Linked DNA regions of Homo sapiens: region 1 is linked to region 2. The links come from fine-mapping of genetic effects on gene expression. Tissue or cell type: whole blood. Region 2 holds a variant in brackets; the other region holds the start of a gene. Each region is shown on its reference strand, or each on the opposite one.

Region 1 (4,385 bases), not on the chromosome of region 2:
CTCACCTCTTCCACCTCCGGCCAGCTGACGGCCACCTCGGCACCGGCCACCTTCGGGCTCTCTGGCTGCTGTGTCCCCCGGGAAACGTGCTGGCGAGACCTGAGCAGAGGTGACCATTCCTCCCCGCTCCCCATGGGGCCTGCCCTGCCCGAGCTTGGCCTCTGCCAGAGCCCACCTGGAGAAGTGGGATCAGCTGTGCCACAGCAACCCCAGAAGTGTGCCCACCTCCCCTGAACCCCCGTCCCAGCCAGCCCTGCTGTGGGCATGAGAGTGAGCGGTACCACAGGTAGGCATCCAGCCCGATGACAGCCAGGTGGGGCCGGGCGGTGGTCTCGGGGGAGATCCAGGGCACCCAGTGGGTTGGGCCAGAGATCTGAAGATGAGAACGTGTGGCACAGTTGTTCACAGGAGGCTGCGGCCTATGGCCATGGGCCACCAGGCCACAGCTGGTTTGCAGAACAGCAAGCCTGAAAAAGAGCCAGTGGTGCCGAGAGGAGCCTCTGTTCCGTTACCCCTTCTGAGAAAACCAGCTCTGTGCCTCCCACGAGGCCAAAGAGGCTAAGGAGACCCTGGAGTGGCTGCTCGGGCACATGTCAGTTCCATTGAGCCCCTCATCCTGGTCCACCTCTGTACTCCAGCCTAGCTTTGACCTAGCACAAAGCAGCAGCTTGAGAGACACTGATCCTGGGACACAGGGACCTGGCAGGGGGTCTAGCCTAACCCCACGCTACCTGGCACCACAGCACCTGAGCACTGCTCCCCGCAGGCAGGGGCCAGGCTGTCTGCTGTCAGAGGACGAAGCCTGCAGCCTACTGCCCGGACCCCGGCCTCCTGACACTTCTCAGGATCCTCTAGGAGCAGCTGTAGCCTCCGCAGGTGCCCAGGAGCTTTCTCCATCTCACCCTAGAAACCTCTACGGCTTTGGATCAGAGAGGAGTCCTGGCCTGCCCCATGCCCCCTCCAGCCCCGTCTACAGGGGCAGGGACCGGCGGAGCAGGCGCCTCCCGGCTGGGAACCCACCCCTCCTGATTAGAGAGGGACTACTGCCACCACCCGAGCACCTGGGTCAGTGTGGCGACGCCCTGCAGAAACTCCTCGGGCTCCAGCAGCAGCAGCAATTCCTGTTCACCTGCAGCCCACACTTCAGGAGGCAGCTGTGGGGACATGGGGACGCGCTGCTGCCTGTCTCAACCCCGGGTGCCCCAGGGGCCCTGCCTGGGCAGTCCAGCAGCAAAGCGGTTCGTGGCCCCAGCCAAGCCCAGGCCCTGACAGGCCTGCTCTACAGAAGCCCAGTGTTCCCTTTCCTGCCAAGGCCAAGCTCAGGCCAGGTCTCTGTGGCTGGCAGGAATCCAGACCACAGCCTGAATCGAGACGGAACCTTCTCCAGCCAGCTCGGCTCTATACCAGCAGAACGGCTTGGGCACCTCCACTTCCCGTTCTCCATCCTTGCTTTACCCATCCGCGAGACGCGCACGGCCCAGGGCAGCTGCCTCAGGGACAGCTCCAGGGCTGAAATCATGGAAGCAAAACAGCCAACTCGCGGCTGGCCCTCGGGAACCCGCGACCACTCACGCTGCGGGGGCAGGGGTCGGGACTCGCTCGGGTCCACCGCAGGCTGCGGGCCGGGCGCTGGGGCTCGATGCGGCACTCGCAGCCCAGGGCCTCCAGGGCCTCCATCAGGACGTCGGCACCGGCGTCTTCCAGGATGGCTGGGACCGGGGGAGAGGAGCGCGGTCACTGCTTCCTTCCACCCTCGCGAGCGCCCTACCTGGGCGGGTGGCCGGACCGGGGAGTCTCCATTCGGCACAAACCCCCGACTGGGAGGCGGGCCCGGCCCCAGGCCCCTCGGCACGCGCGCCCCGCCCAGTCGGACAGAGGGCGCCGCCTGGCGGAGAAAGGCCTTTCCTACCCCGAGTATCGCCCGTGCCCTCCGCCGCACCTGTGTCCACGCACACCGCGAGGCGCTTCAGGACCTGCTCCGGCCGCAGCAGCCGCAACGCCTCGGCAGCCGCCCTGCGCTCACCCGCTGGGTCCCGGGCTCTCGCGGCGGCCTCCGAGCCGGCGGAGTCCTCAGCGTCGGAGTCTGAGATCTCCCAGGTTGGAGGTCGCCGCTGACCGCTCCCGCCCCGTCCCCGGCCCCGGCCCTGGCAAGAGACCCCCGCCCTCCCGGGTCCAACCCGCGCCATGGCCGGACCGACCTCTTCCTCGCTTCCGGCCGCGACCGAACACTTTAGCCTGGGACACCGGCCTCTTCCGGTGACTTCCGGCCGGACCGCTGAGGACGCGGACCCGCCATGGCGCGGAAGAAGGTGCGTCCGCGGCTGATCGCGGAGCTGGCCCGCCGCGTGCGCGCCCTGCGGGAGCAACTGAACAGGCCGCGCGACTCCCAGCTCTACGCGGTGGACTACGAGACCTTGACGCGGCCGTTCTCTGGACGCCGGCTGCCGGTCCGGGCCTGGGCCGACGTGCGCCGCGAGAGCCGCCTCTTGCAGCTGCTCGGCCGCCTCCCGCTCTTCGGCCTGGGCCGCCTGGTCACGCGCAAGTCCTGGCTGTGGCAGCACGACGAGCCGTGCTACTGGCGCCTCACGCGGGTGCGGCCCGACTACACGGCGCAGGTGCGTGCACCCCGTCCGCACCCCGCCCCTGCAGCCGCCTGGTCTCCCCGCCTCCCCTCCTCCCTGCAGGTTTGCGTGGCTGAGGCTCCCACCTCCTGACCTCGGGGGCCGAGAGCTTTGCGAGCTGACCCCGCTTCCTTCTGGCTTTGCAGAACTTGGACCACGGGAAGGCCTGGGGCATCCTGACCTTCAAAGGTAAGGCTCGGGAGAGCGGGTGCCCGGCAGTTCGATGCCGACCGCCGACGGCACAGCAAGTGTGTGCAGACGCCTCTTTTTCTTCATCAGGGAAGACTGAGAGCGAGGCGCGGGAGATCGAACACGTCATGTACCATGACTGGCGGCTGGTGCCCAAGCACGAGGAGGAGGCCTTCACCGCGTTCACGCCGGCGCCGGAAGACAGCCTGGCCTCCGTGCCGTACCCGCCTCTCCTCCGGGCCATGATTATCGCAGAACGACAGAAAAATGGAGACACAAGCACCGAGGAGCCCATGCTGAATGTGCAGAGGATACGCATGGAACCCTGGGATTACCCTGCAAAACAGGAAGACAAAGGAAGGGCCAAGGGCACCCCCGTCTAGAATGCCAGAACCAGCGGGTGGCCTTAGGGGCTGTGAGGCAGTGGGGACCTTATTGATGAAAGAAACCGTCTTTGCGTTACACCCGAGTCTGCCTCTCGGAGCAGGGAGCTCACCTTCCGCGACGTGTTCTGAGGGTCTGCATCTTAGGGGGGAGGGCTGGGGCAAATCGCCACCTGTGCCTTTCCTCTGGCCCTGCTGCCCCCACACCCAACTCCGAGGGCCCACGCTGGGGAAAGCGGGAAGCGCTCGCTCCCTTTCCCCCATTAGTGCTCTCTCTGCCTGGATCCCGGCAGAAGCTATGAAAGGGAATAAAGAGAAAAGAAGTACCCAGGGTCGTGGTGTCTTTGCGCTCTGTCTTTAGGACCGGGGAGAGAAGGGCTGACGCTGTGGTCGTGGCCCTGGCCGGGGGGGCGCGGGGGGGGCGGGGTTCGGGCGGTGCGGAGCAGGGCGCCGCGTGGGTGGAACCACCTGGGCGGGTTGTGGGGGATACAGTTAGTGTCCGAGCTGCTGGAGGAGACTTGGCCTCCGCAGCTGCCCTCCGGCCCCCCACGGCTGCCGGGTTCCGGGGTGCAAGTGAAGCAGCCTCCCCGCGGAGGCCGCAGCGCCCCGACCAGGCCTCTTTAAGCGCAGGCCCCGCCCCGGGCGCCACCGCCCCGCCCCGCGGATCCCGCTCCCGCACCGCCATCATGATCTGCCTGGTGCTGACCATCTTCGCTAACCTCTTCCCCGCGGGTGAGCCGCGCGGCGCGGGCCGGGGGCGGGTGGCCGGTGCTGGGCCGGCCTGACGGCCCGTCCCCGCCTGCCCCGCAGCCTGCACCGGCGCACACGAACGCACCTTCCTGGCCGTGAAGCCGGACGGCGTGCAGCGGCGGCTGGTGGGCGAGATTGTGCGGCGCTTCGAGAGGAAGGGCTTCAAGTTGGTGGCGCTGAAGCTGGTGCAGGTGGGGGCGCGGTGAGCGAGCGGGGGCGCGGTGTGGGGGGAAGGGGAGCGGGGACCTGGGGACGCCTAGGTGCCGGGTGCGGGCGCAGGCGGCCTGACCCTTCCGCAGGCCTCCGAGGAGCTGCTGCGTGAGCACTACGCCGAGCTGCGTGAACGCCCGTTCTACGGCCGCCTTGTCAAGTATATGGCCTCCGGGCCGGTGGTGGCCATGGTGAGTATCCGGGAAGCGGGCGGGCGGCTCCGGGACCCCCA
Region 2 (4,385 bases):
TTACTACTTGCTTCCTGTAGGAATTCTCTATTGTTGGATCATATTGGTCCACAAAATGATTCTGAATTAGCTGTATCGTCAAGACACTTTTGCTTACGCCACCAGCTCCAACTACCGCAAGTTTATATTCAGTCATTTTCAGCAGGTCTGGGAGCCGCTGAGCCTCTGGCCCTGCCGCCGCCTTCAGTGCCTGCGCCACGGAGCTCCCAGTCCGAAATGGCGGAGGCCGGGAGTACTGGCCCAGCTTCATCTAAACCAGTATTTGTCTTATATACTTTACGTGAATATGCTTATTCTCAAGGTAAGGCAGTCAAAGCTCATTCCATTCCTTAGGAATTTATGATGCAGGATAATGTCAAACACTAAAGATTCATTTTATTTCAAAGAACCAGCAAATTTCAGTAGATCTTAATGTTACACAATGCACTAAATAGTAGACCATGCTTCTCCCTGGAGTCATTGTTTTCTAAATTGCAATGTAGTACCTAAAAAGCATTGCAAATAAGAATGACATTGTGAATCTTATTGAAAGTTTTAGGTCAGTTTTGTCATAATGCATTCTTCATCATCTGTCAGGTTGTTGGCATGTGAAAGGTCTCCAGAGGAAAAAGAATATGCTGCTAGAAATAGTCTCCAGTTTTCTCTTCAAATAACAACTTGGGTCAAAATCATCCTTACTAGGTCACTGTTAAACAATATTTCTGATATGTTTGACATGTTACTGTGCATTACATCAAATCAAATTTTGATCATGCTTTATAAAATTCCTGACATGTCTAATGCTATTGTATTCTCGTAGTGAGTATTTAAATGTGGCAATAAATAATGTCCCGGACCTATTTCTAATAATTTTAGTTTGCTTTAAATCTTTATCTGCTAAAATTTTTTCTCTAGATCTTGAAATTACTCCACAATTTACTAGTGACTATGATAAGTCACTTAAATACCTCATCTTTTTTATTTATTTATTTATTATGTTTTTTGAGATGGAGTCTCACTCTGTCGCCCAGGCTGGAGTGCAGTGGCGCGATCTCGGCTCATGGCAACATTCGCCTCCCAGGTTCAAGCAATTCTCCTGCCTTAGCCTTCCAAGTAGCTGGGATTACAGGAGCCCCCTGCCACGTCCGGCTAATTTTTGTATTTTTAGTAGAGGCAGGGTTTCACCATGTTGGCCAGGCTGGTCTCAACTCCTGATCTCAAATGTTCCACCCACCGTGGCCTCCCAAAGTGCTGGGATTACAGGCATGAGCCACCATGCCCGGCCAACAGCTTCCTCATCTTTAAAATGAGATACAGTAGTACCTGTATTATAGGGTTATTATGAGGATTAATTTAGTAAGTGTAAGGGTTTATGACAGTATTATTGTTGAAATATGAGGTCAAAATAAATTTGTTTCCCTGAGTAGGATGAAATGCTCCTTTAAGAGGAATCATTTAAATTTCTTACATACTTTTATTTGCACATTGCAGCAAAATACGTGCATGTTAAACTACCAGCATAACTTAATTCATGAACGCATGTATATACCTGAGGATCTTCATGGCCCCAGGAACACATTAAACTTTTCTGATACAATTTTTCTTTACTTAGAGTTTGTTTTCTTCTTCACATATTGCTTTTCATTTGTTTACATTGTACTTTCATCTATATAATATGCATTAAAAATGTAAAGATGTTTGCTTTTTCAAGTAGTCAAGTTCAACAAAGTTTTTATCATATGAAAAATTAATAGGTAAGCACTCAAACATTGATGAATAAAGATACTAAACAACAGTAGCTATAGGCAGATCACCCACCCACTACCCTCTGTTTCCAAACAGAAATAATCAACCCTTCCTCTAATTTCATGTTCTTTCTCTCAGTGGTGGAGTGTTCTAGATTGTATCAGTCTAGCTTGTTATTTTGATTTCCATCTGGAACTGGATCAGTCCTTACTCAAGCCCAGATAGATGACATCATAGAAATAAATTGTATTAGTCTGACATAATTGTTCTCTATGCAATCTTCACATTTATGGGGGAAAAGGTTAGTTTTCATTAGTGTACTAATCCAAGGCTTGCTCTCTTCCTCTATTGTAAAAAGCAGTAAATTGATACACTGTTAGTGATAGCTGTCATATGACTTACTGTAAATTATATAGCTCTTAAACTGCCCTCATTTTCTCTTTGGAGAGGCCTTATTAAATGAAAGCACCATGCTGCCGCAACTACAGTGAGGTTTCAAAAAGCCAAATCTCATCACATTGCTTGTATCCTTTAAATCCTTTGATGTTTTTCTGCTCCTTTAAGGCAAATACACAGACTTCCCTGATCTAGCATGTGCCTGCCTACCCAGCCTCATCCCATCTACCCCTGCCATTCATTCTAAACTCCATCTGGGTCAGGTGCTTAAATATTCTGGAATATGTCACATTCTTTGTGCATATTCCTGGTATCTCTTTTTACCCCCCTTGTCTTCCTGTAAATAACATAAATACCACT[T/C]TGCTAACCCTCCTAAATAAGAAAACTTTATTGATCTTTCTGGTCACAGAGCATAATTTTATTGTAGTATTTTTGTCATTGTTTACTTCATGTCTCTTTCTGCCACTGTTGTTTGGCTCCTAAAGATGGGGCTTAAGATCTTTGTCAGAGTTATTCAAATTGGCAAGTTATTTTTCTCTGTAGATTACTTCAAAGAAAAATAAGCATTTAAAAAATTTTAAAAGAAAATAAAGGCACTTGTGATTTTTTATATTTTTAATAAGACAAGGATAATAATGGGAAAATTTGAGAAAACATTAAGGTAAATTAAAATTGCTTGTAAGGTTAGTTGGGTAAATAACATTTATTGAGCACCTTCAATGTCTCAGGCATTTTACTGGATTCTTTTTATTTGTTAACTAATACAAGAGTTGTAAAGAACCTAGAAAATAATGCTCAAAGCTTGACTGTAAGATAAAAGAAAAAAACAGTTCTAGCTATTGATATCTCAAATGGGAAAATTTGTAACCATGTCATCTTTATATGCACCAGATATTCAAATAAACATAGAAAGAAACAGACTAACACGTAACTCCAGTTGATTAGTTTCCAGGACATAGGCCTAACAGTGGAGGACGGTTTATTGATTTGGTTAGAGAAACAGTAGCAATTACCTCAGTGTATATAAATTACGGGTTCCTAGATTATAATAAATTAACATGTATTGTGGTTGGGCTATTATTGAACAAATTTAGTTCAAATTAATTACATTTTTACTCCTTTTTATAAGATAGCATTATGGATCATGTGCTAAAAATCAGTAATCAGTTTTGGGTTTTATATCTTTTTGTATGAACATAAGGAAGATATAAACAGTAAATTCTTGAGTACAGTACAGATATTCTTGTCTTACAATGGGGTTATGTCTTGATAAACCCATTGGAAGTTAAAAAATATTTTAGTTGAGGAGAGGCCAAGATAGCAAATTAGAAGCAACTGCAGTCCACGGCACTCACAGAGAGGAATGAGAGGAGGTGGAACTATGTATTTAACATTTTATACATATGGACAGTATATGTGTGCATATGTACAAATATACATTTGTAGACAATATGTACAAAAGCCATGTGACAAGTTCAGGAAATTTAAAGAGAGCTGGTATGGCTAGAGTGCAGAGAGAAGGGATAGAATATTGCAAAATGAGGCCGGACATGGTGGCTCAGGCCTGTAATCGCAGCACTTTGGGAAGCCAAGGCGGGCAGATCATGAGGTCAGGAGTTTGAAACCAGCCTGATAAACATGGTGAAACCCCGTCTCTACTAAAAATGAAAAAATTAACTGGGCATGGTGGATTGCGTCTGTAATCCCAGCTCCTCAGGAGGCTGGGGCAGGAGAATTGCTTAAACCTGGGAGGTGGAGGTTCCAGTGATCCGAGATCGTGCCACTGGACTCCAGCCTGGGTGACAGACTGAGACTCCGTCTAAAAAAACAAAAAAACAAAAAAAATTGCAAGATGAGGTTGGAGAATTAGGACCTTGTATGCCAAGTCAATTTTTTTTTAATCCTAGAAGCAATGAGAGATTTCTGAAGAGTTTCAGTGAAGATGACATCATATTTGTCTTTTTAAAGATCACTCTGATTGTAGTATGTACACTGGGTTGGGGGAAGGCAGAGTGAATGAGAAAAAAATAGTTCAATGGCTACTACAATGGTCCAGGTAAGACTTGGCTGTGTTTTGGACTTTGATGGCAGTGAAAATTTTAAAAATAATAATGGGTGGATTAAAGAGATGCTTAAGGAGAAAAATAATAGGTCTTGGTTATGGGATGGTTATGAGTTTTGTGAAAAAGAGATACTTGAAGATGCTTAGTTATCATAGATGTAACTCCGTGGATCCTGGTGCCACTTAATGAGATGATAAATGC

The links. PIP is the estimated chance that this variant, and not a neighbour inherited with it, causes the effect.
Region 1: MRPS34 starts here. The variant in region 2 is fine-mapped to the expression of MRPS34 in whole blood (TOPMed, PIP above 0.99).

Annotation. Positions count from the first base shown.
Region 1 is chr16:1,771,029-1,775,413 of GRCh38, reverse strand. MRPS34 (mitochondrial ribosomal protein S34) reads left to right here and starts at 2,280. Exons shown (of 3, transcript NM_023936.2): 1 at 2,280-2,615; 2 at 2,768-2,810; 3 at 2,901-3,519. The coding sequence starts at 2,295. The coding sequence ends at 3,193. It overlaps NME3 (NME/NM23 nucleoside diphosphate kinase 3), which reads left to right and starts at 3,871. Exons shown (of 5, transcript NM_002513.3): 1 at 3,871-3,925; 2 at 4,004-4,134; 3 at 4,243-4,344. The coding sequence starts at 3,880. EME2 (essential meiotic structure-specific endonuclease subunit 2) reads right to left here and starts at 2,604. Exons shown (of 8, transcript NM_001257370.2): 1 at 1,940-2,604; 2 at 1,573-1,709; 3 at 1,062-1,154; 4 at 282-373; 5 at 6-99. The coding sequence starts at 2,186. RefSeq lists enhancers at 570-1,358, 2,216-2,355, 3,146-3,235 and silencers at 1,536-1,595, 1,606-1,715, 1,726-2,035, 2,066-2,165, 2,526-2,665 and 1 more.
Region 2 is chr6:54,766,334-54,770,718 of GRCh38, reverse strand. The region is part of intron 1 of LOC107986606 (a long non-coding RNA gene); the gene reads left to right. It also overlaps the pseudogene KRASP1. Among named protein-coding and RNA genes, the nearest start is that of FAM83B, 78 kb to the left of the region's middle. The variant T/C (reference allele first, on the strand shown) is at 2,482.